Regions from separate parts of the Homo sapiens genome. Here regions 2 and 3 are each linked to region 1. Evidence: fine-mapped expression QTL. A gene starts in region 1. Each other region holds a variant in brackets. All regions are shown on one strand. Distances are from middle to middle.

Region 1 (9,944 bases):
TCTAAGGGATACAGCCCTGTCCTCAGGGAGCCCCAGTCTGAAGGGAGACTCAGTGCTCTCCTCAGGGAGCCCCCGTCTGGATCAGGGAAGGAGCTCTGTTTCCCTGTGGAGGTGACTGCTCAGGAGGAAAGTCCTTTTCCATGGCACTCCCTGACTTCCCCTTCCCTTTCTCTCCTGCAGCCAGCAGGGCTCCAGCGGGGGAGCGGTTGTCTTTGGGGGTGTGGATAGCAGCCTGTACACGGGGCAGATCTACTGGGCGCCTGTCACCCAGGAACTCTACTGGCAGATTGGCATTGAAGAGTGAGTCTGCGGTGGGGCCCTGGGGATGTGGCACTTCCTTGGAGTGGGCTTCCAGGCCATGTCACACACACACACAGTCTGGCACTGCTCTGGGATGGGGCAGAGGACCCCTGAGGCTTACTCCTACAAAGCCACAACTGTCCTCTGCAGGGGTGACAAAGCCCAGCTCAGCCTGGAGAAGAGAGTGGATGTGGACAACATAGGGAGGGGCAGGACCTGGACTCCCGAACATTAGGGACCCTGCAGTCCAGCCCCATCATGGGCTCACAGATTAGAAACGAAGGTGTGTTAGCAACTAATTTGCTCAAAGTCCTTACAATGAATCAGTGGACCTGGTTTTCAGTGTTTTTAGAAACTTCCTTGACACTTTTAAGGACTAGGTCCCATGGCATGATGCAGGGGAATAGCCGGATTGATCTTTGCAGGGTCCTCACTTTCCTCAAGAAAGTAGCTGTAGCTCTTTGTCCCACAGTGGTGGGGAAAGCCCGCCCCAGCTGCCCTGAACTGGGGGAGTCCTGAGGCTGCCTGTCTTCTCCCCATACAGGTTCCTCATCGGCGGCCAGGCCTCCGGCTGGTGTTCTGAGGGTTGCCAGGCCATCGTGGACACAGGCACCTCTCTGCTCACTGTGCCCCAGCAGTACATGAGTGCTCTTCTGCAGGCCACAGGGGCCCAGGAGGATGAGTATGGACAGGTGTGACTGGTGAGGGTGTCTCTCTTCCCCAGGAGGCTACTCCAGAGGCATTCATGATTTCTCCTGGGAACACAATAGCCAGCTGGGCGCCGTGGCTCATGCCTGTAATCCCAACACTTTGGGAGGCCAAGGCAGGCAGATCTTTTGAGCCCAGGAGTTTGAGACCAGCCTGGGCAACATGGCGAGACTCTGTCTCTACAAGAAATACAAAAATTAGCTGGGTGCGGTGGCATGCGCCTGTAGTTCCAGCTACTTGGTAGGCTGAGGTGAGAGGATTGTTTGAGCCCAGGAGGTGGAGGCTGCAGTGAGCCGTGATCTCACTATTGCACTCCAGCCTGGGTGACAAAGCAAGACCCTGTCTCAAAAAAAAAAAAAAGCCTAACTCTTGACCTCCAAGCCTCTATCTGCCCAAGGCGCTGGAGGCAGGGGGACCTGGGACGACTGGGGCTGTGTGCAGGATGGGGGCCTGGAGGCTTGTTCAGGCGGGGCCAGTTGCTTGTGCTGAAGGGGAGAAGGAGGTTACTATTAGGCAGGAATTTCTTCTGAGCTGCAGTCACTCAGCAGAAACAGAGGAAATGCTTGCTGGACTTTGGGATAAGAGCAAAATGACTGGAATGTGGGGCTGAGTATGTGAGCAACCAGGGCTGACCCTTTATCCCCACCTCTCTCACCTCCACAGGGCCATGCTCCCCTGCGCTTGTCTGTCTTGAGTCCAGCCAAGGGTTTGTTTAATTAACCCAAGCCCACTACCACTAATTTTAATTTTGGGAGACCAGTGGGGTACTCATTATGCAGATCTGTGTTTTTCTTTTTTTTTTGTTTTTTGTTTTTGTTTTTTTGAGACGGAGTCTCTCTCTGTCGCCCAGGCTGGAGTGCAATGGCGTGATCTTGGCTCACTGCAACCTCCACTTTCCTGGGTTCAAGCAATTCTCTGGCTTCAGCTTCCTGAGTAGCTGGGACTACAGGTGTATGTCACCACGCCTGGCTAATTTTTTTGTATTTTTAATAGAGATGAGGTTTCACCATATTGGCCAGGCTGGTCTCGAACTCCTGACCTCAAGTAATCTGCCTGCCTTGGCCTCCCAAAGTGCTGGGATTACAGATGTGAGCCACCACGCCCAGCCATCTGTGTTGTTTTTGTCGTTGTTGTTGTTGTTGTTATTGTTGTTTTGAGACAGAGTCTCACTCTGTCACCCAGGCTGGAGTGCAGTGACACAATCTCAGCTCACTGCAAGCTCCGCCTCCTGGGCTCAAGCAATCCTCCCACCTCAGCCTCCTGAGTAGCTGGGACTACACGTGTGTGCCATCATGCCCAGCTAATTTTTGTATTTTTGGTGGAGGCGGGGTTTCATCATGTCACTCAGGCTGGTCTCGAACTTCTGGACTCAAGCAATCTGCCTACCTCGGCCTCCCAAAGTATTGGGATTACAGGCACGAGCCACCATGCCCGGCCAGATCTGCGTGTTTTAAAATGCCACTTGCAAGCTGGGCATCATGGCTCATGCCTGTGTATGTGTGTGTGTGTGTGTGTGTGCATATATATATATGCATATATATATACATATATATATGCATATATATATGCATATATATATGCATATATATATGCATATATATATGTATATATATATGCATATATATGTATATATATATGCATATATATATGCATATATATGTATATAGGCACTTGCAGAGAAAGAGCAGAGGTTCGATCTTTAATATGGGAAATCGAGGCAAGAGGAGTTAGGAGGCTCTGGGATCACTCCAAATCACACCCATTCTATGAGTCCATGGGATAATGCCAGCATTACCTACACAGGACTTTCCCTTGGAGCTGCATTCTCTAGTCCAAAAACAGGCTTAGGGCTTGGGCCCGGAGCTCAGGCCTGGGATCCAGGGGCTGAGATGATGGGGCTGGTGGGTGCTATCAGGGGGAGGATGAGTTAACCAGGGACCTATTCCTCTTGCAGTTTCTCGTGAACTGTAACAGCATTCAGAATCTGCCCAGCTTGACCTTCATCATCAATGGTGTGGAGTTCCCTCTGCCACCTTCCTCCTATATCCTCAGTGTAAGTCCTGGTCCCTGCAGGCTGAGCCACCATGATTGGGGTTGGGAGGAAGGGCTGGGGAGCCAGAAATGCTGGGTCTCCTGCCTTGTGCCATTTTCCGACTCCACGCTTGTACTCATTTATCTTCCCCACTCATTGATTCTAAACCCCCTTCTCTGGAACAAGGCTATGAAATAGAAGATTGTCATCTATGATCAATTATTATTAATTAGTGGGGAGAGGCACTGGGCTCTTTGTTGAGCACTTACTAGGGCAGACCACTGTGCAAAGCACTTTGCTTCATGATCCCATTTAATTGTCACAGTATTTAATGAGGGAGATACTCATTTCTGTTTTACAAATGAAAACTTGGAGGTTCAGAGAGGTTGAGTAACTGACTCAAGGCGACACAGCTAAGGTTTGAATTCAAGTTGGTTTGGCTCCAAGGTTTAACCACCAGGCTGATCTGCTCCAAATTGGGAGCAGGAGGGAGGTCTGTGGGAAGAGAAGTTTCCCATCATGGGGAGAGGAGACCCTGCTGAGGACCACGGCAGCCTGAATGTACCTGTTCCAGAAATCCTCCCACCCGCTCTGCTCTGGTGGCTCAGTTGGCCTATGAGCCCTCAAGGCAGAGACCCTGGCTCCCTCAGCTCTGCACTTGTGCTCCCAGCCCAGGGCTCAGAGCTGAGCAGGGCCCAGCTCATGTGTGGACAAATGAATGAGTGCTGCCTTTCTTTGTTGAGCAGAACAACGGCTACTGCACCGTGGGAGTCGAGCCCACCTACCTGTCCTCCCAGAACGGCCAGCCCCTGTGGATCCTCGGGGATGTCTTCCTCAGGTCCTACTATTCCGTCTACGACTTGGGCAACAACAGAGTAGGCTTTGCCACTGCCGCCTAGACTTGCTGCCTCGACACGTGGGCTCCCCTCTTCCTCTTGACCCTGCACCCTCCTAGGGCATTGTATCTGTCTTTCCACTCTGGATTCAGCCTTCTTTTTCTGGACTCTGGACTTTCTCTAATAATAAATAGTTCTTCTTTATGTTGGTCATCCTGTTGTTTTTGGAAGGGAGTTTTCCCTGAGTGGCTACAAGGTTTCCTGGTGGGTCACTGTGATTCTAAGAGAAATGGGACCTAAGGCATGGCTTGGGATGGGCTCTGTAACCCTCAGAGCTTAAAGTTCATACTTTTCCCCTGGAAAGGGAAGACAGTGGTAGCGCCATCATGGGTGGGTGGGTGGCGGGCCGGGGGAGAGTGTTCCTACTTGAGTCACAGAGAAATCGAGCCTATTTGCTGGAACCAACTCAGCAAGGGATCTTGTCCCTTTGGACTTCATCCCTGTCCTCCTCAGGAGCCTCTTAGCAAAAGATCCAGAAACCAGGAGCAACATTGTATGTGGGGAAGGAGGAGAGAGAGGAAGAAAAGGAGGAGGGGAAGGAGAAGAAAAGCAGGGGAGGGGCTGGGGGAGGAGACAGGGAAAAAGGGGCGGGGAAGAGGAGAAAGTAGAGAATGATGCCTCCGCACCCTGTGAACTTCCAACAAGGGAAGGTGACATGAAAGGAGCTCAGACAATTTCTGTCCAGCAACATGACAGCAAGCTCAGGCTGGTGAGTGGGGCGTGAATGTAGAACCCATAATGGGGGCAGGCTGCCTTCTACTGTCATATTTTACCCTGTACTTCGCCAGGCTCACCCTGGCCTTGCCCCTTATGATCGGGGCAGGGATAAAAGTGCAAGATCCAGGTCCTGCACCCTACTCCTGAAGAGAAGCTGGAATTTGCCACAGGTGGAGTTTCTATGGCAACAGCACACCATCTGGGACCCTCTCTTTCTTAGACTGCCGAAGGACAGCAGGCTGCAGGTTCCTTTTAGGGGGTCGGACAGGCTACAGAATGTATCTTAGTGAGCCCTGGTTTGGGACTTTACTGAGAGGAGAAAGAAAACTTGCAAAGAGGTAGAAGTGGATCAGAGGTTCCAAGTCAAGAGCCTCTTTCCCTGTAAGCCTTAGTCCGCTGAGCGGGACTACAAATCCCGGCGTGCCTAGCGGGACTGCAGCGAGAACTACGCTTCCCAGTGGGCGCCGAGGCAGAGCGGCTGGGAGGCGGGGCGGGTGCTGCCCTCTGCCGGGCGCGGAGGGAAGTGTGCGTGGAGTGACAGCCGGAGCCCGGGCGCCGGGCGCGGGGCTCGGTGACAGCGGAGGCGGCGGCCCGGGCGGGACGCAGGGAGCGGCCGCGGCGCCGACGGCGGCGGGAAGGGCGGACGGGGCGGGCCTCCCTGGTGGCACGGGGCCGGAGCAGGCCGGGAGCAGGTGGCGGGCACAGCTTGCGGGCCAGGCACCCGAACTTGCGACAAGTTGCCGGAGCCGCGGGGCGCGGGCGGCGGACAGATTGACCTTCAGAGCGAGGTGAGCGGGACCGGGGAGCGAGAGGCACGAGGAGGGCCCGGGACCCCCGACCCAGGCTCCCTGGCCCCTATCCCGTGGGTCCCGGAGACAGGTGGGAGGGTGGGGGATGCCGGCAGGAGAGGGAAGCAGGACCGTGCGCGCCGCCACCCACCCGCAGTCCGTCCGCCCCCGGGCGCCCAGCGCGTGGCCCGAGCGGCGCTGCCCGCCGAGCCGGGAGCCCCCTCGGCCCCTCCCTTCAGGCGCGGGCCGGGGGCGGCTTCTCCGCGACCTTATGTAACCGGGCGGGAGGGGCCGGGCGGGCATGGGCCTTCCCGGCCCGGAGCTGGGAGTCGAAGGGGCGGGAGGCGTGATGGTGAACTCGCAAGAAGTTTGAGGGACGCGCGGGCCCCGCGCCCACTCCCCCTCCACCGGACACGGCTGGGGCCGGCGATGCCTGAGAGGGGGTCGGAGGTAGGGGAGGTGTGCGGGGGCTGAGTCTGGCCAGGCCAGCGGGGGGAGTGGGAGGGCCAGAGCGGCGCCACGCCCCGGGGGCTGGGCTGATGGGGGGGCGGGTGGAAGTACCATCTCTCCCTCCCTTCCCGTCCCTTCCTCCAGCTCGGTCTCTTGAAGAAGCCGCCCCTGGCCCCGTCCCCTCGAGTCCCTGGGCAGTCTCTTTCTCCCCGTGGGTTATTCTATGACCCTGGGGAACACCAACCCCGGAGCGCTCCCTCCGTGCGCCCCGTTGTCTGCCTCCCCCCGGGTTCCCAGCTGCCTGCCCGCCCCCCGAGTTTCCCCCTCCCCCCGTCTCGGTCCCGAATCCCGGAAAACACGCCCCCTTCCCCCCGATCCCCCGAGTCCGTGCCGCCCACCCCTGGGCTGTCCCGACCAGCTCTGGCCCAGCGCGTCCGCTCGCCTCCTGGAAGGGAGCGGGCAGATGCCAGCTCGGCCCCCTCCCCGCGCGGGGTTCCGGCTTCACGCACGGCTGCCCCGAGCTGCTCCGGGCTGCGCGAGCAGGTTCGCGCCGCAGCCGCCTGGCGCGCCCCAGCCCCGCGCCCCGGGTGAGGAAGGGAGGGAGCCCGGGGCGGGGCTTGTCTGCGCGAACCCCGCTGGGCCCAGGCCCCCGCCCTCCGCTCTCCGCCAGCCCCTGGCCGCTGCGCCTTCCCCCGAACCCCCCTCAGCTCCAGCCGTCGTTCTCTCGCCTGTCTGTTCTGGGGACGGTTCAGCGCGGAGCTTCTGCACTCAACTTGAGCGCAGTTTTTGGCTTAGAGCTCGCTGGGGAAGTGCAGGTTAATTACTGCCCAGCTCCCATCCTCTGCCCTCCCCCCATCCCGAGTGAGGGGCTGCTTCATCCCTCAGGGAAAGGGACAAGACGGATGCAGGCCCCCAGTGACACCTCTGGGGTGTGGCCTCAGGCCCCTGCACCCGCCCTGGCCGAGATTCCATTGGCCCAGACCTGGCACTGTTGGGCAGCTGGGGATGAGGTTGGAGGCTGGTCTCTGGTTTCCTTCTGGGTGGACAGATGCGGATGCGCTCGGTTAGAACGCAGTTCTTGGTGCCACGACTGGGAGACAGTCCTCAGGCCCTCCCCTCAGGGAGCTCACTGTCCGGGGAGGGACAGCCAGCAATAGTTCCTGGCCGGCCAGGAGAGGCAGAGGCAGAGGAAGGGAAGGGTCAGCTGCCTTGAGGTCCCTGCCTGCTAACCTGACGGTATGCTTTCACCATGCCGGTGACCCCAGCCCCAGGACCACGAGCAACTCGCCTGGCTCCCTTCTCTCCGTCTGCCTCCTGGCCGCGGGGCCCGGAGAGCTGGGAGCCAGAGGGTGTAAATGAAGGGCAGAGCTGTTTGGGTGACTCCATGCTCTGCTTCTCCCCGAGGGAAGCCAATGGTGCTTACCATTTACAAGGCTTGTTACAGCTGCAGGGTTATTTTGTCCTCAACTCAGCTCTGGGAGACGGAGCCAAATGGGGACCCAGGTATCTTGGTTCCGGGTGCCCTGGAAGGAGTTCAGGGGATAGGGCAGGGGACACCCTAGGTGGGCACTGAATCTAGGGAGAGCCAACTGGGCTTTTACGGGCTAATGGCCTGGTGACTCACAGTCAGAGGTGGGCAGGGAGTGGGCCAGGGCAGGCAGGAGCCCTTCCAGGGTCCCACGTGCGCTGTCACAGGCCTCCTCAGCCTGTTTCTGGAAAGCTGAGAAGTAGGTGGAAGGGGACTCCCACCCCTCAAGTCTGGCTGCCCTTTGAGGGTCTAGCTCTTGGCCCTGAGCCCTCCTGGGGCTCTGTTTATGACTGTAATTGCATCATTAGCCAGAGTTAATAGAGTTACTTAGCACCTGCCCCCACAGGGAGTAGCCCAGCCACCCCCTGGGTTCTGTCTCTTCCTTTTCAAAGTCAACTCGGTTTCTGCAGGCAACAGGGGTTTCCCCAACCACAGCTGTCATGAAAACCAGGTTGGGCCTTTGTCCTGGGGATGGAGGGCAGTCAGCACTTGGGGCCTGGCTTGGGGCTGCCCTGGAGATGACCATGGAAATTGGGTTGGCCTCCTCTGATCGGAGGGTGGGAGTTCAGGGTTCCCAGAGCTGCCAGAAATGTTCACGTCCCAGGACGCAGTGAACATATATGCATGTACAGTGTGGATCCTCATCTGAGAGGAGGGAGATGAAAACACACCCACCTCACAGGCTGTTGTGAGGACTAAGGGTGCGGCAGTGCCTGGTACATGGTGAGTACATGATGTTGCTTTCTGGGTTGGTGTGGGGTTTATGTAATGGTTGTGAGTTTGTGTGTGTGGTTAAAGTGTCTAGGAATGTGGGTAGAGATGAACTGTGCATGTGTGTCTATGAGAGTGTAACAATAAAACAAGATTATATTAATAGAATATTCATCTCTTCTTTTATGCTATACTAGAACAATATTATAATAAGATTGATTATACAATAGTTGCCAACATTTATTGTGTGTTTAGAGTGAGGTGGGAATTACTGTTTGCATTACACTTACTTACTCAGAGAGGTTAAGCAAGTCACTTAAAATCACACAGCCTGGAAGTGACAGGATTGGAATTTTAACCTAGGTCCAATTGACTCCAAAGTCTGTGTTCTCAGTCCCTAAAGAAGACCACTTCTTCAAGGGGTTTCCCAGGAGTTCTCTCTTAAAAGGTGGGGGTGTGGTGGTCTGGGGACCTTCTTTTCTCTATCCAGGGTTTCCTGCTCTAAGCAGATCTTTGGGAGGCCTAGGTGGGAGGATCACTGGAGCTCAGGAGTTCGAGACCAGCCTGGGCAACATAGCGAGACCTGGACTCAATTGAAAAAAGAATTTGTATGAAAAAAATAAAAATAAAAAAGCAGGGTGGGAACTTGCTGAGGCCCCTGTCTGAGCACCATACCTGTTTCCTGGCCTTTCTTCTGAGCTGCCAGCATGGGTGACCAAAGGACCTCCGGCTGGAACCTGTCTTGACTGGCCAGGGAAGGAGACTGGTTCAGGCAAGACTTCCTGGGCTTCTTTGGAAGCCCCAGACACCCAGGAAGGGAGGAGGCATCCTTACTGATGGCCTTCTAGGTGCCCGGCTTTGTGCCATGCATTCCACGTCCATTAACGTACAGTGCAGCCCTCAGCAGGCCCTTGTTTAATCAGATGTGCAGAAGAGGCTGTGGGGATCATTGGGTGAGAATGGGACGGCAGTAAAGTCATAAGAGCACTGGACCAGGAGTCGAGAGACCCCACTGTGCCTCTCACTGGCTGTGTGGCTGGGCAGGTCTCTGCTTTGTTCAGCCTCAGTTTCCATATCTGTGAATCTGGATCATCTGTGGGATTCCCTCCAAAGCGAACCTTCTACAAATCTTTGCCAAAGGCACCGGGGAGGAAGAAAAAGGAAGAGAAAGCAAGGGGTGGTGGGGGTGGGTTGTTAGGGGTGTTTGGGAGATGCTGCAGTCCGCAGAATTGAGCTTTAGCTAAAGACTGGTCCTGGTGAAGCAACCAGGAAGTTTTTCTTGGGACAGCCATAGCCACTATATATTGAGCACTGGACCAGTGTCACCTGGTCAGGGGGTTGTTGAGAACGTGGGCTCTGGGGCCAGGCTATGTGGCTTGCACAGCTCTGCCACTTAACACTGTGTGAGCCTCGGCAAGCTGCTTAACCCCACTGTGCCTCAGTTTCCACACCTAAAAAGTGAGGGTTCTTGCAGCACCCACCTACTAGTGCTGTCGTGAGGGCTGAGTATGCCGATATTGATGCACATGTAGTACTTAGAATAGCGCCTAATGAACTGTTATGACTCAGTGAGTTATTTATTTCTCATTCTTAAGTGAGGAAATAGAGGCATGGAGAGCTCTAGGGAAGGAATAAAGACCTATGGGTTGCAAACAGGCCTCTCCATGTGTCTAATGTTCTCTGATGTAATGCTTTACGTGGGGCTTCCCACCACTCTCTGTCCCACCACACCAGCCTCCTCTCCTTGTTGAATAAGACGGTGCAGGGGGCTTGGCAATGCCTGAGGCATCTCTACCACCCCTGCCCTGCCACTT
Region 2 (9,944 bases), 38 kb after region 1:
GAAACCGGTGCCTGGCCCTTCCCCTCCCAGCCTGCAGGCCGATTCCACCGGACCAGCCCTCCACACATCCATGCTGCCAGAACCATCAGCACACCAGGCAGGCGGCAGGGAGCCTATGAGAGGTCCCACACAGCCTCTGCATGTTATTTGTGAGGGTCTTGAGTCCCGGAGAGGGGGACAGGACTTGCCCAAGGTCACGCAGCTGGGTGGTGCATACCGATGCAGGTCTTCCAGTCCCACTCTGGCCTTAGGTAGGCTTTTGTGCTGGGCCTGTGGAGGCTGAGAGAGTCCTTGCAAAACAGACTCATCTCAGAGAGTCAGAGCTTGTGGGCCCCAAGTCCACAATGGCATGAACTGACCAATCAGATAGAGTCTTAGGCCTCACCTTCCCTGGGGAGGGACCTCATTGACCACATAGGCTGACGTAGCATCCATGAAAACTTTAGCTGATCTTTCCTGCAGGGGACATGAGCAGGTTCGCTGGGGTGGGCCAGAGGGTACTTGGGGCAAGTGGAGTTTCAGTCTCTAAACCCCTCTATCGCCCTCAGGCCCCTTTCCTGTCCTAGGAGCCATCTATGGCTGAGTCCCACTCCTCCCCCAACCCTTACCACCCTCACCTCACTATGGTCTGGTGCCAGATCTCTGATCCCTGGAATCACATTTCTGTCTGACCAACTCATATAGCCTCCCCTTCCGCCCCCTCCGACCCAGGCTCTCAGGCGGGCTAACCGTCTCAGCGAGATTCAGATTTGTCACCCTCTGAGCCTCCTGGGCATGGATGTCTTGGCTATTTAGCAAAAAGCATCTGTGGGTGGGGTCTGGGAGGGCTGAGGAGCATGCAGGCCTCTCTGGGGAACCTCTGTAGGATTCGCTGAGGGTGACATGGGATGAGGGGGGCGCAGGACTGGGAGTGCAGGGGACAACAAGCCATCTACATGGGGAGACCTTTCCTATGGGCCCCAGGTTACCTCTCCTGGGCTGGAGCTGCTGGTGGTCACATACCTGAGAGACCTGGGCTTGAACCCCCACTTCACTGTGCTCTTGCAGTGTGACTTCTGACAAGCTGCTTAATCTTTCTTTTTTTTTTTTTTTTGAGACGGAGCCTTGCTCTGTCGCCCAGGCTGGAGTGCAGTGGTGCGATCTCAGCTCATTACAACCTCTGCCTCCTGAGTTCAAGCCATTCTCCTGCCTCAGCCTCCCAAGTAGCTGGGACTACAGGCATGTGCCACCGCGCCTGGCTAATTTTTGTATTTTTAGTAGAGACAGGGTTTCACCATGTTGGCCAGGCTGGTCTCGAACTCCTGACCTCAAGTGATCCACCTGCCTCAGCCTCCCAAAGTGCTGGGATTACAGGCATGAGCCACTGCGCCTGGCCTACTTAACCTTTCTGAGTCTCGGTTTCCTATCCTGCTGTGTTGCTGTTTATCCCATCAAGTGTTTGTGTGGATGAATGTGATTGAACAGAGGCCCCTTGCGCAGTGCAATGTGGGAGGGACTCGGAGCGTTTGCCAAGTGGGTGATAACTGAGTGTGTGGGGGTCACTGGACCAGCAGCCCTTGAGGGCCGTGCATCTCTTTCTGGAAAGTCTGATGGGTGGGATGGTGTGGAGGTTCTGAAGAAGAAAAGTGATTTCTCTGAAACTTCCTTGTAGCTGAGGAGACTGGTAGGTGGCAAGGAAACAACTAGAGAACAAAGCATGGCAGACACAGGCAGGAGGCTGGAGTAGATGGAGTGCCCAGGAGGCGGGTGCAGGGGCACAAGGGGTGGGGGTTCAGTCCCACCACTCCCCAACCCAGGAGAAAGGTGGCTGCCTGCTAAGGGGATCCTTAGACTGCAAGCGGCAGCTGAGGGATGCGGCTACACGTGTGTGCACATGGACATGTGTGCATGTGTGCGTGCATGTGTGTGAGAGAGAAGAGAGAAAGAGAAGCAGACACGGAGAGACAGAGCGTCCACATGGGTGGCTGGGCCGGTCCGTGCATATCACAGGGGTGGAATCCTTTTCTAGTTTCTCCTTTCATGTTCCTATTAGCTACATGTCCCTCGTCCCTGTCCTGCCATGCCCAGTGGCAGTCGTCTTTGCCAGGGCCCAGCTGGTCCCAGTGGGACAGGACAGGGCGACTCCCTGGTCTGCAATGGCCTTTGAAGCTGCTCCCCCTGTTGTCCCGGGCCAACAGTCTGACCAGCCAGGAGGCGCCAGTTCCCACCCTTTCCTGTGGGATGTGAGCTGAAACTTGGGGCTGATGGGCCTGAGCTGTGGGAACAGGAGGCCATTAAGTGGGCCAGGAGCTTGTGTGACCGCCCTTCCTCTCTCCTCTCCTTCCTTTCCCTCCTCCCCACCTCCTGCTGGTGCTCAGAGATTTAAAAACAAGCCCCTGACTGCCCCCTGCCCCCAGCCCTGCAGTCTCCCGCAGCGCATTCCTGCAGGGGGTCTGGGAGAGGCGGTGCAGAACGCATCCTGGGGTCTTGCTCTGCTGCCACTGAAGCGCATTGTGCAGATCTCCCTTTTGGAGCCTCTGCTTCCTCATGTAATTCATTCTTTGTTTCTTGATCTTTTTTTTTTTTTTTTTTTGAGACGGAGTCTCGCTCTGTCGCCCAGGCTGGAGTGCAGTGGCGAGATCTCGGCTCACTGCAAGCTCCGCCTCCCGGGTTCACGCCATTCTCCTGCCTCAGCCTCTTGAGTAGCTGGGACTACAGGCGCCCGCCACCATGCCCGGCTAATTTTTTGTATTTTTAGTAGAGACGGGGTTTCACCGTGTTAGCCAGGATGGTCTCCATCTCTTGACCTTGTGATCCGCCCGCCTCAGCCTCCCAAAGTGCTGGGATTACAGGCGTGAGCCACCGCGCCCAGCCTCTTTTGTTTCTTGATCTTTATTCATCACAAATAGGGGTTGGTCAGTCCTCAGTAAGTGTCCCCACTTGGCAGAGCGGTTCCATTTCATGAAATATACTGAAGACCACATCCTGCATGACAGCCTTTGTGTGCTGTTGGAGACCATAGCACTCAGCCATGGTGATGCAGGACAGGGTCCCGGAGGGAACCTGCCAGGGTGATGGTGACATTCTCCATCTTGATCTAAACAGTGATTATACAAGGCCACACACCTGTAAAAATTCATTGAGCTGTACACTACAAATCTATGCATTTTGCTAGGATAAGTTACACTTCACTAAAAGGGAAAAAGACCAAAACATGGCATTAAAACTGTTAAAAGCATGTGCGTGTCCCATTGACCTCATTTCTGCTTCTGATATCAAGGACCTTTCAA[T/G]CAAACAGTGCACACTTACCAGGTGTCCTGGGTTTGCTATGTTTCTGTATCGGAAGTTGCCAGCTAATATAATAAAAGGCTATATTATGAAGTATCTCCAGTGTGCCAGGAACTGTGGTAAACACTCCGACTACTTATCCCTTAGAACCCAAAGGAGTGGACATTGTTATTGCTCACCTGCCTCTCTCATCTCCTGCAGTGAATGACATGATATACAAGCTCTGGAAAAGAAAATCTTAAAAGACCCAAGGCTTTTGGAGAGGAAACAGAGGGCTCCTGGTAATAGGAAAAGCTGGCCTGAGGCCTTCCTGCCCCTATCTAGTAAGGAGAGACTGAAGCTGGGGTTACCACTAGGCTGCTCTGCCCCAGTCTGGGCTTTCAGATGGTGTGTATGTGTGTATGTGTGAATGAATGGGTGAATGGATGGGACACTTTCCCCAAAGGAACTTATGCAGGGATGCCCCCAGTGGGCCTGGACGGAGCAACACTGAACAGTGACCAGAATGGTGACACCTCCCCTCTGCCCACAAATTCACACCTGCAAGACAACTTACACACCCAGCCTCCTCACTTAGAGCACAACTGCTATGAGGTAGACGTGGCCCCAGCTGGCAAGCCCTGCTTGACTGATGGGGAGACTGAGGCCATACCCAGACAATTGAGTCCAGCCCAAGGCTAAGACTTGAACCCAAGCACTTGGCCTTTCCCACAGCATCATATGGGCAGGACTGCTGGCTCCTGGGAGTCGTAGGATACCTTTCCACCCCTCACTCTGTTTGGGTCTGGGCCATCTGATGCCCCCTCCCCAGGCCCTACAGTGACTCATGACCACCTCCGTAATGTGGAATGGCTTTGTCCATGAGGATTATGTGATGTCCTTGTTCTGTTTCCTAGTTCATCAGGACTTCCTCTGCTGCCTCCTCTGCCAGAGGGGGCTGAGAAAAATCCCAAGTTTGGTATTTTTTTCTCTCTTCCCTTCCCTAGGCTGAAAGGTTCCTAGGAGGCCACAAAGCCCTTCCTTTGCCTCCAGGAATCTCGAACCTGTTCAGGAAGCTTTTGTTTAGCGGTCAGTTTCTTTCCCCAGGACTGACCGGGCAGCTCCCCCACGACTGAGAGTGTAACAGACTGAATCAGAAGAAAACTTCTTCCGACCACAGAGGTGCAGAGCGTCATCAATGGCTTAAACAGGCCTCCCAGCCTCTGGGCTTGCACACTTTGTTGTTTCAGCCGCCAGACATATGTTTTTCTGGGAATACAGGAAATTATCTCTGCTCTTTGAGGAAGGGTAGAATTTTTTTTTCTGCCTGTGTTTGGGGATTCCAGACTGTTCCATCATCCCGGACACCCTCTGGCTCCTGGGCTGGATGAACGAGATCAGCCGCTGAAACTCTTTGATCGCAGGGAGGCTTCTTCAGTGAGAATTTCTAAAACAAAACGTGGCCGCCCTCACCCTGAATGCAGGACTGAGGCCAAACTCCCAGCCCCAGGGTTGGGGCGGTGCAGCCAGACTGCCAGGGTCCAGCCTTGCCACTCATTAGCTCTGTGACCTTCAGCAAGTGACCACCTCTCTGGGCCTGTGTTTCCTCATTCCTTGAATGGGGACAATAATGGTACCCACGTCACTCATATCATGAAATAATTATGATAATTACATAAGGTGCTTTGAACAGTACCTAGCACACAGTAAGCATTCTATGAGCATTAGCTGTTAGCATAAAATATTTTTTTTTCAATTAGAAAGATATACATCTTCATTCTAGAGAAAGAATAACATTCCAAAAGGCTTTTAAAACCACACAAAATACTTATGGTTACATCATCCAAAGAAGTCAGTAATAATTTTGTATATTTCCTCCCAAGAGGTTTTTCTATACATATTTTTACATTGTGATGATCAGATTTTATATACAATTTCCCCCTACATCCTACATTTTGTCACCTGACATATCCTCATGTTATTTATTGTAAGTATAGCAGTCCATCAGGAGGGACACACCGTAATTTATTTAACTATCCTATAACTGGACATTGAGGTTAGTTTTGACTTTTTTCCATATAATGTGAAGTGCATCTTTATGCACAACATCCTTTTCTGCATCTATGATTACTTCCTTGGACTGGTGAATATTTTTCAAGGCTTTGACATATATTGCCAAATTGCTTTTCCAAAGAGGTTGTACCAAGGTATGCTCTGGCAGTTGTGTTGAAGGTGCCTGGTACCAAAGGCATTTTAAAGTCATAGACACACTTGGGGAAGGGGGGGGGTTTGGAGAAGGGGTGGTGTTGGTGAAGGTAGTTTCCCTAACTCTTCTTTTAAACTATTTAACGTCTGCCCTCATTCTTTTTTTTTTTTTTTTTTTGAGATGGAGTTTCACTCTTGTTGCCCAGGCTGGAGTGCAATGGTGTGATCTCAGTTCACTGCAACCTCTGCCTCCCGGGTTCAAGCAATTCTCCTGCCTCAGCCTCCCAAGCAGCTGGGCCTACAGGCATGTGCCACCACACCTGGCTAATTTTTGTATTTTTAGTAGAGACAGGGTTTCACCGTGTTGCCCAGGCTGGTCTTGAACTCCTGACCTCAAGTGATCTGGCTGCCTCGGCCTGCCAAAGTGCTGGGATTACAGGCGTGAGCCACCATGCCAGGCTGGTCTGCCCTCATTCTTATGTGATTTTAAAATGAGAATACAACACACATACAGAAAATTATAAGTTGTAAGGGAGCAGCTGTACAAATTATTGTAAATATGACACTCTCATGGCACCAACACCCATATCAAATTACAAAACTTTCCTAATCCTCTTACCCACCAAGCCATCTTGTGTCCCCTCCCAGACACTCCCCCAAGGGTAATTAGGATCCTGAGTTCTAACATAGTAGATTAATGTTGCGTTTTTTTGAACTCATATACGCAGAGCATGCTGTATACACTTTTGTGCCTTGGTTCTTTCGTTAACATTATGTCTGCGAGAGTCATCTATGTCATGTGTAACAACAGTGCATTTGCTGTCATTGCTTTGTAGCATTTGATTGTATGGATGTACCACCACTTCAATTTATTTTATTTATTTATTTTTTTTGAGATGGAGTCTCACTCTGTCACCCAGGCTAGAGTGCAGTGGCATGATCTCGGCTCACTGCAACCTCTGCCTCCCGGGTTCAAGCGATTCTTCTGTCTCAGCCTCCCGAGTAGCTGGGACTACAGGTGCACACCACCACGCCCGGCTAATTTTTGTATTTTTTAATAGAGATGGGGTTTCACCACGTTGGCCAGGCTGGCTTCGAACTCCTGACCTCAAGTGATCTGCCCGCCTCAGCCTCCCAAAGTGCTGGGATTACAGGTGTGAACCACCATGCCTGGCCCACCACTTCTTTATCTATCTTTCTTTAGTGGACATTTGGGTGGTTTCCAGTTTTGGTTCCTATACACGCAAACATTCTAGTATATGTGCTTTGGTGAACACGTGGATGCTTTTCTGGTGGGCATGCATAGGAGGGGGTCCATGGGTCATGGAGTGTGTTTTCAGCTTCCTGCTCCAAGTTTTAAAGGATCATTTAGAGGGCAGAAAAATCCCCAAGGCAGTTCAGGCCTCACAAGCCACTGAATGGACTGGCGTCAGCTGACAATAGTTTGAGGGCACTGCATGAAGATGGTACTCCCCTCAGAAGCCCTTGTCTGGGGCTGTGGTAGAAACTGAGTGGGGCCCTGGCCCTCCAGCTCCAAATGCTTGGTGGCTGCTGGCCCTGGCTCTGTGCCTCTGCTGGCCACTCGGTGTCCTCACCCAGGGACCGCGGCTGGCCTAATGACCACTGCACCGAGCAGGGCAGGGCTTGGGCCAGCCCAGGTGGAGCTGGGGGGATTCCTTCCCCTTGGCGACCCACCTTTGGACATGACTGGAAGCCCTGGAAGCAGGTTGGGCCCCCCCATAAACCCCCAGAAGCTGCTGTGCTTCCTTTCTCCTGTTAACAGAATCACACAAGTCGCACATATTCCCACTGTAAGAGCTGAGTGCTTCTCCAGTGGAACGAAGAACTATAAAAATCCCTCTTTATCCCTCCCCCTCCATTGCCCCTTCCCACTCCCCTCCCCAGCGGTAACAACTCTGAACAGTTTGGGGTGCTGGGAGAGCCCAGAATAGTAGTTAAAGAGTGGGGGCTGTGAGCCAGCCTGCCTGGATCAAATCTCCATTCTGCTACTTAATCAGCTGTGTAACCTTGAGTGAGTTCCTTCACCTCTCTGTGCCTCTGTTTCCTCCAGGAAAAATGGGGATAATACTAGTACTCAGCTCATTGGGTTGTTGGGAAGAAAAAACAGAATTAACATTAGGAAAAGCACATTGACCAGCCCTGACCCATGGCAATCATTCACGAAGCATTTAGCGGTTGGTACTCTGATCTTCCTGTTGTCTACACATATACCATTTCATGATTCATGGGCTGGTTCATACTAAGGTGTAAATGACTGACAGGCAAGGCCCACACACAGACTGGATGAAACCAGCTCTGGCCTGACCAGAGGAGACCGGGATCCCTGGTTATGAAGCGACTGCCACACACTTACCTTGAATCCCCCCAATGGCCCCAAAAGGCAGGTGCTGTGATTAGCAGGTGCTGCGTTTTAGAGAGGAAGACAGCCTAGCACAGAGAGGTGAAGTAGCTTTCTGAAGTCGCCTAGCCAGTAGGGGCAGTGAGCCTGTGGGATTACAGAACTCATTTTGGACATGACTAAGCTGGAACCCAGTCTGGGCTTTGAGGCAGAGTCAGCTGAGAGGCTGTGGGTGGACAGCAGCAGGAGGCAGCTGGAGGGTCCTGGGGGTGTTGATGGGGGCAGCCATGTGATTGGGGAGAGGCAGGGATTCTCTGGGGGCATCAAACCCTTCCTCTCAGGAGGAGGGTGTTACCTGGGAGGGGCAGGGGAGAAGGCTCTCCAGGGAAGTGCCCCATCCCTGGTGTCTACATGCAGTAGGCACTCCAGGCCCCCAGTGTTACTGAACCTGTACACAGTGGACCCTTTCCAGGCATGGTGGGTCTGAAGGGCCAGATGGTGGGAGGGGCCAGGGACATTTTGGTTCTCCCATGTCCATCCTCTTAGTTCTTCCTGGCTAGACTGGGTGTCAGGGGAGGCTGAGAGTGGACCCTCAGGATTTTAGAGTGAGTAGGCATGCTTGGAGGCTAAGGATGGGGGGATTAGCATGTCCTGGACCACCCCCATCGCTCTCTGATCCCCTCAGGTCCCTCCCTTACCCCATACCCATCCCACCTACACCACACTCAGCAACCCAGGCTGGCGACCAGGGCCAGGGGAGAGGGCTGGAGCTTCACTGGAGGACAAGCTTTGTGGGTGTGACAGCTCCAGCGGTGGGGTTGGGGAGCCTCACTACCCTGCCAGCCTCTGTCAGGGGACAGTAGCTGAGGCTACTGACACCCACTGATGCACAGACACCTCACTGTGTCCACTTCTCCAACGTCCTCTCCCAGGAGGCTCACCCAGATTCTGGCAGGGGGCGGTGGGGCAGGGATTCCCAAGTCCATTGTGCAGATGAGAGAACTGAGGCTGGCCCAGCCAGTGAGAGGCAGGGTCCAGCCCAGGCTCTCCTCATAGCAAAGCCAGCTCCAGTCCACGCGAGGCCAGGCCAGACGCTCAGCTCTTTGTCAGAGAAACAAGGGGATCATTCTCCCCTAGCCCTCCCTGTGCCGGCTGGCACTGCCAGGCCCGGTGCCCACACCCCCACCAGGGCCAACTGAAGTCAGATTGTCCCCAAGGGTGGGGGGGTGAGCCAGTGCCGTGTGGGTGGGTGTGTAGAGGGTACAGCTGCGAGGGGGTGGGTTGGGCTGGGGTCAGAGCCTATGAGGTCTGTAGGGCTAGTGTGCGTGTGGTGGGCAGTGGGGGTACAAAGACAGGGATAACCCTCTGTAGCAGCATAGGAAGGGGGTGGGCAAAGGCATGGGTGGAGGCTGCAGCTGTGTTCCTGCTGCAGGATGGGAAGGGAGTGGTGGGCATCTGCTCCTTTCTTTCTGGGGACTGCCCCGTTGGTAGCTGGGTGGAGAGACCCAAGGAGCTGAGACAGCCCCTTTACTGATTCATGGTGTAGAGGGGCAGAGAAGGAAGGAGGGTGGGGTGAGGGCCACTGCCTGCCTTCCTACCTTGTCGGGAAGGCACAGTGGTGGTGGGAGGAGCCCTGGCTGGCAGTCAGGTGGCATGGGCTCCATTCCTGGGCCTGGCAGCCAGGCAGCCTGCAATAAGCTTCCTCCCTGCTCTGTGTGGAGACCCTCTCCTCCCCAGCATGGGCTCAGAGGCCATGCTGCCTGGGGCTGGGTTCCAGCTCTGTCCCTTTCACTGCTGAAAGACACTTAATCTCCTGTGCTTCTGTTTCTCCTTATCTATAAAAGGAGAGTAATATGCAGAACTACTTCATAGGGCTCTTCCAGGTGAAGGAGTCTGGAACATTGCCTGACATACAGTAAATGCTCAAATAAATTCAAGTTATTATTATTTCTATTATCTGGTGATTTTCACTGAATATTTGCCAGTTCTTTTTGCTAATGCTGACTAAGTCCAGTGTCTGGTATTAGCCAGAACATGTCAGCCTTTGCTGCTTCCCTTTGCTATCCCCTGAGGTCTGGGCCTCATTGTTAGGAGCTTGAGACACAGCTCTGGCTTCTGGTCCACACTGATCAGT
Region 3 (9,944 bases), 27 kb after region 1:
GCCACAGTGACTTTGTGTATGACCTTCAGGGAGTGTGGGTGGCATGCATCAGGACGCCTATCTGTGTCGTTATGACTGGGCGTGAGGGAGGGTGCCACATGTCTAGCCAGCCAGGGAGCAGGGCCAGTTAGCTCCTGTTCCTGGGTGCCTCCTGGCTCTGGGGAGAATAGAAAATGATTCATGCAAAGGGGCCCTCCCTGTTTTGGCCACAGCCTGAGGAGTAAGGTGGCCTGGCTGTCTGCCTTTCCCTGCTGCCCACCAGGTGCCTGAGTTCTCCCCTCCTTCCTCGCCTCAGACCGCGTTTCTCCCTGGGGGTAGGTGGCTGCCCTTCCCTGCAGCCTGACACCCTCTCAGAGACAATTAGAGGAGTAGGCTGCCCATGCCTACAGCTATAAGAGTGAGTCAGCGTAGGGACCGGAGGGGATCAAGTCTCTCTGAATCCTGCGGCCAGACGGTCCCTGCACCAGAAGAAGTGGCCCAGTGAGGCCTGGGCTGGGATGCTGTGGTCAGCACTGATACCAGCTGAGTGGCTTTCCAGCTTGAGAAGACCTGCCAGGGACAGGAGAGGACAAGCTCCACCTGCCCACCACCCGCCTCGCCATCCTGGCTGCAGCCAGCTGGTGACTCATTCTCCTGGGGAGTGAGCCAGCTCCTCTCCTGGGGTACCCCAGCACCCTGGTGCAGGCTGGGTGGCCAGGAGTCCTGGGTGCCTCAGAAAACCTGTGCTGAGCCCAGGGCCCTGGTAAGCTGGGGAGGGAGGACTGAGGCCCTCTGTATGGGGTGGGGGTCGCAGCCAGACTTCTCTTGCTCCTTCTCCTGGCCCCCGCAGACTTCACCCTCCCTCTGGCCAAAGAGGAGGCTGCAACCCCAGATTACGTAATAGGTCCAAAATGCCTCGCAAGCGAGCAGCCCAGCCAGTGGCTAGACTCAGGAGTCCCCATTTCCCAGTACCTGCCACCAGAGCAAGTTCCCATTCCCTTCCTAGGCCGGGTGGGGGAGTGGGTGGTGCTTGCTCACCCCTGGAAAGAGCTGTGCTGCCTGGGAGGGGGTGGGGAGGCTTTCTCCAGAGACATGAATTCTTGGCCTGACCCCAGATGCCAGCCTGCCTGCCCAGCTCCACTCCAGAGTAACGCTGGGTGCACACACAGCCCCATTGTGTGCCTGGGCCCCGTGCCTGCCCAGGGCCTGGCACCGGCTCTATCAACAGCAGTGGCTCCGTCAGCTCCTCAGCAGCCCCTGCCAGTGCTTGAGCCCTTGGGCCCCTGGTGAGGAGGAAGAGGGAGGACTAGTGATTAAGGGTATGAGTCCTGGGTGGGGTACCAGGACCTTTTGGATACTATCAACTATGAGAGACAAGAGCAGGGAGACTTAGTCCTGTTCTCCGAGGAGGAAACTGAGGCCCTGAGAGGCTTCAGTAACTTGCCCAAGGCCTCATGGCTAGTGAGAAGCAGAGCCGGGGTTGGAGCCCAGAGCTGTGGCTGAGCCCCTTACTGGTCTCGTCACCCAATCCCAGACCAGGACTCAGGAAAAGGCACGGTGCCCTCTTTCCACAGCCCCACTTTGGGGAGCCTCTTTCTCGAAAATATATGTCCCCAGGGTAGAAGAGGACCCTGAGACGGTAGGATCTGGAGTCCTGTAGGACCCTGGAATGGTAGGATTTGGAGTCCTGTGTGCTTGTGAGAAACATGGGGGTTCATTTTCAAGGATGGTGCTGGTGGCCAGACAGGCAGAGCAGGTTTCCAGAGCTGGAGGACAGGCTCTGTGCCTCAGTTTCCCTGCTCTACCTGCACTGTACATCCACTGTGCCTTCTAGGAGGGGATAGAAATATTGAGGTGAGGTATGGCCGGGGCTGGGGACTGGACCCCCACTGCTGAGCTCTATAGGCTGTGCGAAGCCCCCTTCACCAACCCAGAACCCCACTCAATGCCTCATGATGGTTCTATTCTAAGTTGGGTCTGAGCCATCCACCTCCTCAGCTTTCCCAGCCTGAAGAGGCCTCTGAGCTGGGTGAGCCTGCCAAGGGGGCAGCCCAGCTCGGTGCCATGAGGGCCCTGCCTCTGCCGCAGGCCCATGTTCCCCCACCCCCCTGCCAAGGTGAGGGTGCCCAGACATGACCCTTTTGGGGCCTGCCCTGTGTTTTACTTTCCAGGCTAGGCTTATTCACTCAGAGAGGCTTGACCCCCTGGGGCTTGGGGGAGCTGAAGGGCTCCTCCCTTCTCCAACAGCCCACCCTTTTGTTCCCCTGTCTGTCTTGGGCATGAAGCCTGGCTCCCTCCTTCTACACCACCTCAGCGCTCTTAGCAAAGGGACAGGGAATTCTGCAGTGACTGCAGGATTGTGAAATGCCAGGGCTGGACCTTGGGGACAGGCAGGGAAGAGAGATGCTGGAAGGGGACACCGAGACTGTGTCCTTTCATACCCCACCTGGGAGGCCAGTCTCCTCCATTCTGCTGGCGCTCATTTTCCTGCATGTATACCATTCCCACCCACCAGTCAGCACACCTTCACCTAAGGCCACAGCGGTGGGGACGTTGAGCCCAGAGGGCCATGTCCGAGTGTCCTCTACCTGGAGCCTGTGTGGGAGAGGAGGAAACCAAGGGACAGCCCTCAAGGAGTTCACACTGCAGCTGAGAAAACCAGAGAGGTGACTTCTTTGTACCTGTTTCTCATTTGTAAAATGAGTACAGTAGTATTTCCTACTTCCTAGTGTTATTGGGAAGGCCAAATGAATTAATACATGATAAAGCCAAGGGCCTGGCACTGGCTCTATCACGGCTTTAGAAGCCATCCTTGATAGATGGTTTTACAACTCAATACAAGTTTTAGTATTATCCATAGTGGTAGAAGAAATACAATATATGCTATCAGGTGATGATGTTTTTTCCAAGCTGGATTGTAAAAACCATAGGGCAAGGGCTGTCTTATTCATCCTTGTATTCCTGTTTCAGACACAGAACCAGGCTTGGAACAGAGTAAGTAATTGTGCCCAAATGGTGATTAGAGGTGGGTGAAGTCAGGGTGTGCTGTCGGGAGGAGGAGGAGACCCTGGAGCAGGGCTTCCAGAGAGGAGGAGAAGTTGGATAATCTGTGGGAGAGGAACTGGGGGAGGGTCTGGGGGCCCAGATTGGGTTGGCGTGAGAGAGCAAGGAGGTCCCCTTGGCTGCACCCAGTGTTTGTTTAGGGAGAGGGATCCTGCATGCTTTGGAGGCCCAACTAGAGCGCTTGGACTTTATCTGGTAGGTAGTGGAGAGCAATTGGGGGTGATGGAGCAGGAAAAAAATGGTCTTTCTATGTTGCTCCATCTGTTTCATTTTGTTTTTGCTCCCTTGTTCTCTGAGGAATATTTTCTTTCTTCATTTCTCCAAAGACAATAAATCCTCTCTGCTCTTCAGCCTCTTCTTTCTGATCCGTAGTTACCCCTGTCCCAAATCCCTGCATTCTGTTCTTGGCTTCTTCTCCTTGGCCATCCTGGCCTGTTGTCCCTGCTGTGCTTTTACCTGGCTTCCCCTTCCTTTATCTGGTCCCTGACCCACCTTCTCTGGAATAGGAGTTGGGTGGAGTTGGACTTGCTGAGAGATGGGTACTGGCATGGCATGACCACATGGTGGGAGCTGGTATGAAGGCAACTGAGCCAGGAGGATATCCTCTATTCTGATGTAACTCTATACATCCTTCAGGGAATGACTCTGCCCCAGTTATGTGGCTAAGGCCCATTAGAAGGATCTTACTTTATATTTGTCAACCTGTTTAATGAAAATGTAGATTTCCAAAATAGATAAATTAGGGAGTGATGGAATCTTATTTTCTCGTTTATAAATTTAGTGGAAAGATCAGCACTTTGGGAGGCTGAGGCAGGAGAATCGCTTGAGGCCAGGAGTTCAAGACTAGCCTGGGCAACATAATGAGACCCCCATCTCTACAAAAAATAAACAAATTAGTGGGGGCATAGTGGCACACACTTGTGGTCTCAACTACTTGGGAGGCTGAGGTGGGAGGATCGTTTGAGCCTGGAAGGGTGAAGCTGCAGTGAGATGTGGTTGCGCCACTGCACTCCAGCCTGGATGACAGAGTGAGACCCTGTCTCAAAAATAAAAATAAAAAATAAATTTAATGGAAAGGGATATTGAACCAGATGGGAACGATGCAGACAACTAGTGCCTTTTTCATCTCCTTTTAAACATCCATCCATCTATCCATGCATACATCTATCCATTATATCCACCTTTTCATCCATTATATCCATCCATCCATCCATCCACCCACCATTATATCCACCTTTTCATCTGTCCACCCGTCCATTTAGGCATGCATCCATTATATCCATCCATCCATCCATCCATCCATCCATCCATCCATCCACCAACCATTATATCTACTTTTTCATGCATCCACCCATCCATTTATGCATGCATCCATTATGTCCATCCATCCATTATATACATGCATCCATCTAATATTTATTGAGCACCTATCCTGTGCCAGGTACTGCATTAGATACTTTATGTTTAATCCTTACAGAAATTCTCCAGGGTGGATATTGTCCTAATTTTACACATGAGGATACTGCGACCCTGGGAATTTAAGTAAGTTGATGAAGGTCACACAGCTAGAAAGTGACAGATCTGGGATTCAGCTTGACTAGGTTCAAAACACACACTCTTAGTGTTTAATCAAATGGCCTCTGTTGGTGTCACCAGTGCCTAGTTCTAAGTGCGGAACATAATAGCTGTGTTATTGAATGAACAGGCATGCCAAGGTTCTGGAATGCTGGAGCTCTATAGCTCTATCCTAGGAGCAGCCTGGGGGCAGAAGGCAATGCTGGGCTTCTAGTCCTACTGGCATTTGCTACCAGCAACCTAATGTTGCCATCACTACCCCCGGTATGGAGGTTTCTTCTCCATGCAACTTGCAACTCTGGCAAGTCCTGTTTTCTTCTCTCTACCATCCCAGCTCTCCTTCTGAGGGCAGTCTTAACCTTCCGCCAAGTGGGGAAGTTCCAAGTACACATTTGGCCATTGCATCCAGCTTGACCAGTCTCCCCAGTGACTGGTCTTCCCCTAGCTCACACCTGCCTCTCTCCTTCCCTGTAGGGTGGGCTAGCTTGCATTACTCTGACCCTTTTATTGGCCCCTATTTCTAAGCTTTAGAGTTAGCTATTCAGTATCAGGTCATAACTGCCTCCTCAGGGCCCATTGGGTGAGGCAAGGATATGAGTGCAAACAGTTTATTTGGGAGGCTCCCCCAGGGAGCACCAGTGGTAGAGTAGGATTCATGAGACAGGAAGGCAAGGAAGCTGATAAAATGTGTGTGAAGGAGCAAGGTGACTGTGGGCATCTGAGGCTCACTGCCATTGGAGGCCTCTGCAGAATATGCTTTAGAGTTCCCCAGTCAAGTGATAGGTGTCTTTGGCTAAGAGGTGGTGGGGAAGGGAGGGAGCTAACTTCATTGGTTCAGGCACCAATTCAGGTGCTGGCACCTGGAAATCTTCAGGTGGGCACTTTTGACATCGTGAGGGCCCAGAGCATGTGGCTGGGGCCCTGATAGCTTTTGCCACCTCATCAAGCCCAGCCCTGGGGGTCTGCCAAGCCCTCTTCCCACATCTCCCTTTCTATGTCCAAGAGGCTTCCCCAGGCAGACCCTTCCCCAGTCGCCAGTTCCACGCTCACTGTGTTTCACAGATACTTAGGGAGCATCTACAAGGTGCCATGGACAAAAAGAGGAAGCTGTCAGGATGCCTCCAGGCACTCACAGCAGAGGAAGGTGACCTGTGCGGCTGAGGCGCCTGCCATGTGGCAGACACTGGCTCGCCCATCCCAGGCCTTGTGCAAGGCCAGCAATGCCCCTGTGGCATGGCATCCTCTCCTAGAGGGAGGTACAGACGTGCTGAGCGCCACAGAGCCTAGAGCCGTCTTCCACTTCCCTCCCAACTCTAGCATCCTGAGGCTGTGATTGTAGTGGTTTTTCTGACTTCCTTTTCCTTTCTGTCACTGCGCCTGCCTCTTCCCCTAGCCCCATGGCCGCCACGTGGCTGCCTTTTAGTCAGCCGGGAACTGAGCCTCCTAGTAGCCTCCCTCTGTGTCTCTGTCAGGAACAGGATACAATTCAGGGACATTTTGGTGGGGGAGTAATTTCGTGCGGTGGCATACCTGTTTGCCCTGGCACAGGCTCTGTCATGTCTGCTTCTTGGAGAGGAGCCTTCTTCCCCTGGGCTCCACCTGTTCCCATCCCCAGCCCTCCCAGCTTCAGGCTACAGGTCTCGCACCCTATAGGGCTGAGGGAATGGGAAGAATTAAAAGAGGGAAGTGGCGTGTAGGTAAGGCCTTCTGGGGTGGGGGCTAGGGGAAGGGCAGGAGATGGGGATGGGGCAGGGGCTGGGCCTGGCGGTGTGCTTCCCCTGGAGACGTGGTCCTGGGCCACAGGCAGGCACGCCAAGTCACAGCCCCTCTGACTTCTTCCTCCAGCCACCAGCCCCAGCCTTTCCCCTTGATGTTTCATTTCCAAACCAGGTCTGCTCTGGGTGCGTGTGCTGGGGTGGCAGGGGTAGGAGTGTGTCTGCCTGTGCCATTCCCTACCCTGTGGGCAGGCCCAGCCATGGCAGCCCGAGTCTATCATCTCCCCACTCCGCCACTTGGATAGGAAGGTGGCTGCACTCACTCCAGGCAGGTGTGTTGTTGGGAGGAGAACAGAGAGGATTGGTTCAGGCATTGGAAGATGGGGTTTATGTCTCAGGTTTGAGCTCAAGCATCTTGGGTCCAGGGAGAAGGTGTAAGGCAGCTGCTGCCTGAGTCTCAACTCTATGGGGGAAAGCAGAGCAGCTCTGAGCCTTGGGGCTGGGCAGGCAGGAGGGCATGGAGCCCAGATGAGTGGAAGAGAATGATGATGAAAGAGCAGACTTCCCGATGCTCCTCCCCCGACCCCATCACATGCAGAGTTCAACACACCCCACTCCTCGCTCTGTCCTGGTAAAGGCAGAGTGCTTCTTATGGTGTTTAAGGACAGGAAAAGGGCTGGAAGTGTGTGTGTGTGAATTTTGCTTCCTGTTCCTTTCATACCTGGGTGTGGGCGGGGGGAGATGGGGGCAGGTTGGGGGACAGCTCACTCACTCCATCCGGTGGGTGGGTGACTTGGTGGGCTGTTGGAATGTTGCCATAGGAGGCCATTTCTCCTCTATGGGGGGAGATGGTGGCTTCCAGGTCAGGTCTCCTCCTCTGGCTCCCTGACAGAGATGGGGTGGGAATGCCAGCCGGAGCGCACATGGACAGGGCAGGAGCAAAGCTGAATTCTGGGTCTAGGGCAGCTGACAGCATTTGGGAATCCTGGGGTGGGCCCCTGTTAGCTCTTCCCAGAACCCCAACTCTTGGGCAGGATGGGGGTGGGGGGGTGTAAGGGTGGTTGGGGGTGGGTGTAGGTGTGTGTTGTGAGGGGAGAAGAGCCCCCGCTGAGTTCCTGGGCCACTGCCTGTGCTGTCTAGTGGCCTCTGCCAGCACTGGCTGCCCCGTCCTGCCCCCACCAGGCGTGACTCAGAT[C/A]GAAAGCAGAAGCTGCCAGACACTGCACAGGGTGAAGTGAGGCAGAACCAACTCTGCTATTTTGGAACCTGGTTAATTCCCCCTTCTGCCCCCCACCTCCCTGCTCTCAGGGCTCCCATCCCCTCCAGCTGTCTGGCACTTCAGCTTCCTCAAGGGGACAGTTGGGGCAGGCCTTGGTTTCCCCTGGCATGGACGTGGAAGGCCATGCTGAGGCCCCTGTCCTTGCTAGGCCCCTCTCCCTGGCCAGAGGTGCTGGATTCTGGGGACCTGCGCTCTGGGGTTGGGGAGGAAGAGCGCCCTCTCCTGGTGGGAACTCGTGGGCAGGGCGGCCCTGGCGAGATGACGGTCACCAGGCCTGGCACCCACTCTCCCCCGCCCATCTTTGGCCGCTCTCAGGCCAGCTGTCAGCTGCCTCTCCCAGGGGTGTGAGCTGACGAGAGCTTCAGGTGGGAGCCTCTCCCGGCAGTGAATCTGAGGGTTGGGAGGGATTTCCGGACCCAGAGGGAAGATATTTTGGGGCCGAGGGCCTTTCCAGAACCCATGAAATCACACACCCTGCTGCGACCAGACTGACCCTCCCTAGTTGATGGTTCTTTTTTGGACATCCTAGGCCTGCTTGGGATTCTGGCCCCATGATTTAGGGTTTCTTTGGAGCCCATCTGAGCCTGGGGGGCCCTGTGGTGGTGGAAGAGGTCCAGCCTGCGGTGGTGAAAGAGGTCAGTGGATGTGTGTTTCTGAGCTGAAAATGGGTGTGGAGTTGAGAGCTGTCACCTCTTCATGGACAGGGTGGATGAGGGTCCCTGGCCCTTCAGAAGCTGTGTCGTTGGGAAGAGGGTGGACTTTACAGCTGTCCCGTGTGAGTGTACATGGGAGTGGGCACAGGCCTTGCGGTATGGCTGCCTCTCAGGGAACCCTGAAGTCAGAGCTCCACTCTGCTGATTACCCCCCAGCAACCTGGTGAGGAGGATGGTGGTATACTGGGGGAGAGGGGAGTCAGCAGGCAGGTGACCAATTAAAATTTGGGTCCTTGCCAACCTCAGGTGGGCAGGACGTAGGTTTCTCATTGTTCAGATGGAGCTGGGGTTTAGGCAGGTGGGAGGCAGAGGCAGAGCCGTGTGGAGGAGAGAGTGGGCTCCTAGACCTGCTGTGGGAGCCTCCACACTCCCAGGCCTCCTGCGGAGCACACAGGCCCAGGCACACACTGTCCCAAAGGTTGTCTGCTCTCTTCTGGAGCTGCTCTTTGGGCAGGCAGGCAAGTCCTGGTGCAGTGTGTGTGTACTGGTGAGTGTGTATGTGTGGACAGTGGCTTATGTGTGAGAGGTGGTGTTTGCATGAATGGGTGTGTCTCATATGGTCTGTCTGGGTTGCTTTTCCACTGGTAACCATCTCGGCTTTGAAGCTGTTTCCCCATAGACCTGGATTGTTTTCCCCTCCTGCACGGGCCAGAGCCCCAGCACCCAGTGAGCCAGAGCCCACCTGCAGCCTTGCATTCTGGCCTCCACCTTGGCTCTTGAGCCTGAGAATCAGGCTGCTTAATTTCCCTGTGGGGCTCAGAAGGGCCCTGCCTGTCCTTTAAAATAGCTCTGTGCTTCCACCAGGGGCCTGTGCTTCCCTGCTGTGTTCTCCCACCCGCCACCAATTTTCATGCTTGGAACCAGGGAACTAAGTCCCCAGAAGGCAACAAGTAAAGTGTCTTTAATGTGCCCACACATCTCCCAGGGCAGTTTGTTAAAATGCAGATTCTGACTCAGTGGGTCTGGGCAGGGCCTGAGAGCCTGTTTCTAACCAGCAAACAGGGCGTGCAATGCCTTAAGAGGCCCTCTCCCATCTAAGGCCCTCACTGTCCAGCCAGATGGCTGGTGGTCACCCAGGCAGGGAGCTAGTACTCACAGACCACCTCCAAGGTGCTAGGCACATCACATATTTCAGTTCCATTTACCCCCTCACTGACTCTGAGGAAGGTGGCATTACCGCCATCCTTTTGTACAGATGGGGAAACTGAGGCTCTGAGCGGTTAAGCACCTGCCCCCAGTCACAAAGCTGACAAATGGCAAAGCCAGATTTGAATTCTGGTCTGTCAGGGTCCAGAGCATATTCGTGATCCACTAAGCCCGGCTGTCTTCCAGAGGGCGGACTCAGGACAGATGACGTGGTGGAGGTGGAGGCGGGGTCAGAGGCTCTGTTGGGGAACTGCAAGGGTAGTCCTGGGTGGTTTTGGATGGAAAGGATATCTTGAGGGGAAGGAGGGTTGAATGGGAGTAGTTCTAGAGGAAACAAGAGCTGAGGGGAGGCTGGTGTCCTGCACCCACCTGCTTAGCCAAGAGCCCCTTCACTGATGGGCTCAAGACCCCCTACCTGCCTCCTCTGGCACTTTCCAGACAGACTCTCCACAGGGGCACCCAGCACACTGTGGGGAG

What was found. PIP is the estimated chance that this variant, and not a neighbour inherited with it, causes the effect.
Region 2: its variant is fine-mapped to the expression of TFEB in whole blood (TOPMed, PIP above 0.99).
Region 3: its variant is fine-mapped to the expression of TFEB in blood mononuclear cells (TOPMed, PIP above 0.99). The same link has a PIP of 0.9 or more in monocytes and whole blood.

Annotation. Positions count from the first base shown.
Region 1 is chr6:41,730,847-41,740,790 of GRCh38, reverse strand. TFEB (transcription factor EB) reads left to right here and starts at 5,183. Exons shown (of 9, transcript NM_001271944.2): 1 at 5,183-5,441. It overlaps PGC (progastricsin), which reads left to right. Exons shown (of 9, transcript NM_002630.4): 6 at 181-300; 7 at 845-992; 8 at 2,963-3,061; 9 at 3,787-4,080. The coding sequence ends at 3,939. It overlaps MIR10398 (microRNA 10398), which reads left to right and starts at 7,181; the gene lies at 7,181-7,237. RefSeq lists silencers at 5,025-5,494, 5,535-6,064, 6,195-6,634 and enhancers at 7,285-7,394, 7,885-7,934, 7,291-7,987, 8,005-8,084.
Region 2 is chr6:41,693,094-41,703,037 of GRCh38, reverse strand. The region is part of intron 1 of TFEB (transcription factor EB); the gene reads left to right. Among named protein-coding and RNA genes, the nearest start is that of MIR10398, 36 kb to the left of the region's middle. The variant T/G (reference allele first, on the strand shown) is at 3,270.
Region 3 is chr6:41,703,946-41,713,889 of GRCh38, reverse strand. The region is part of intron 1 of TFEB (transcription factor EB); the gene reads left to right. Among named protein-coding and RNA genes, the nearest start is that of MIR10398, 25 kb to the left of the region's middle. RefSeq lists enhancers at 6,012-6,121, 6,362-6,431, 7,247-7,747, 7,452-7,831, 8,012-8,231 and 3 more and a silencer at 7,362-7,441. The variant C/A (reference allele first, on the strand shown) is at 7,528.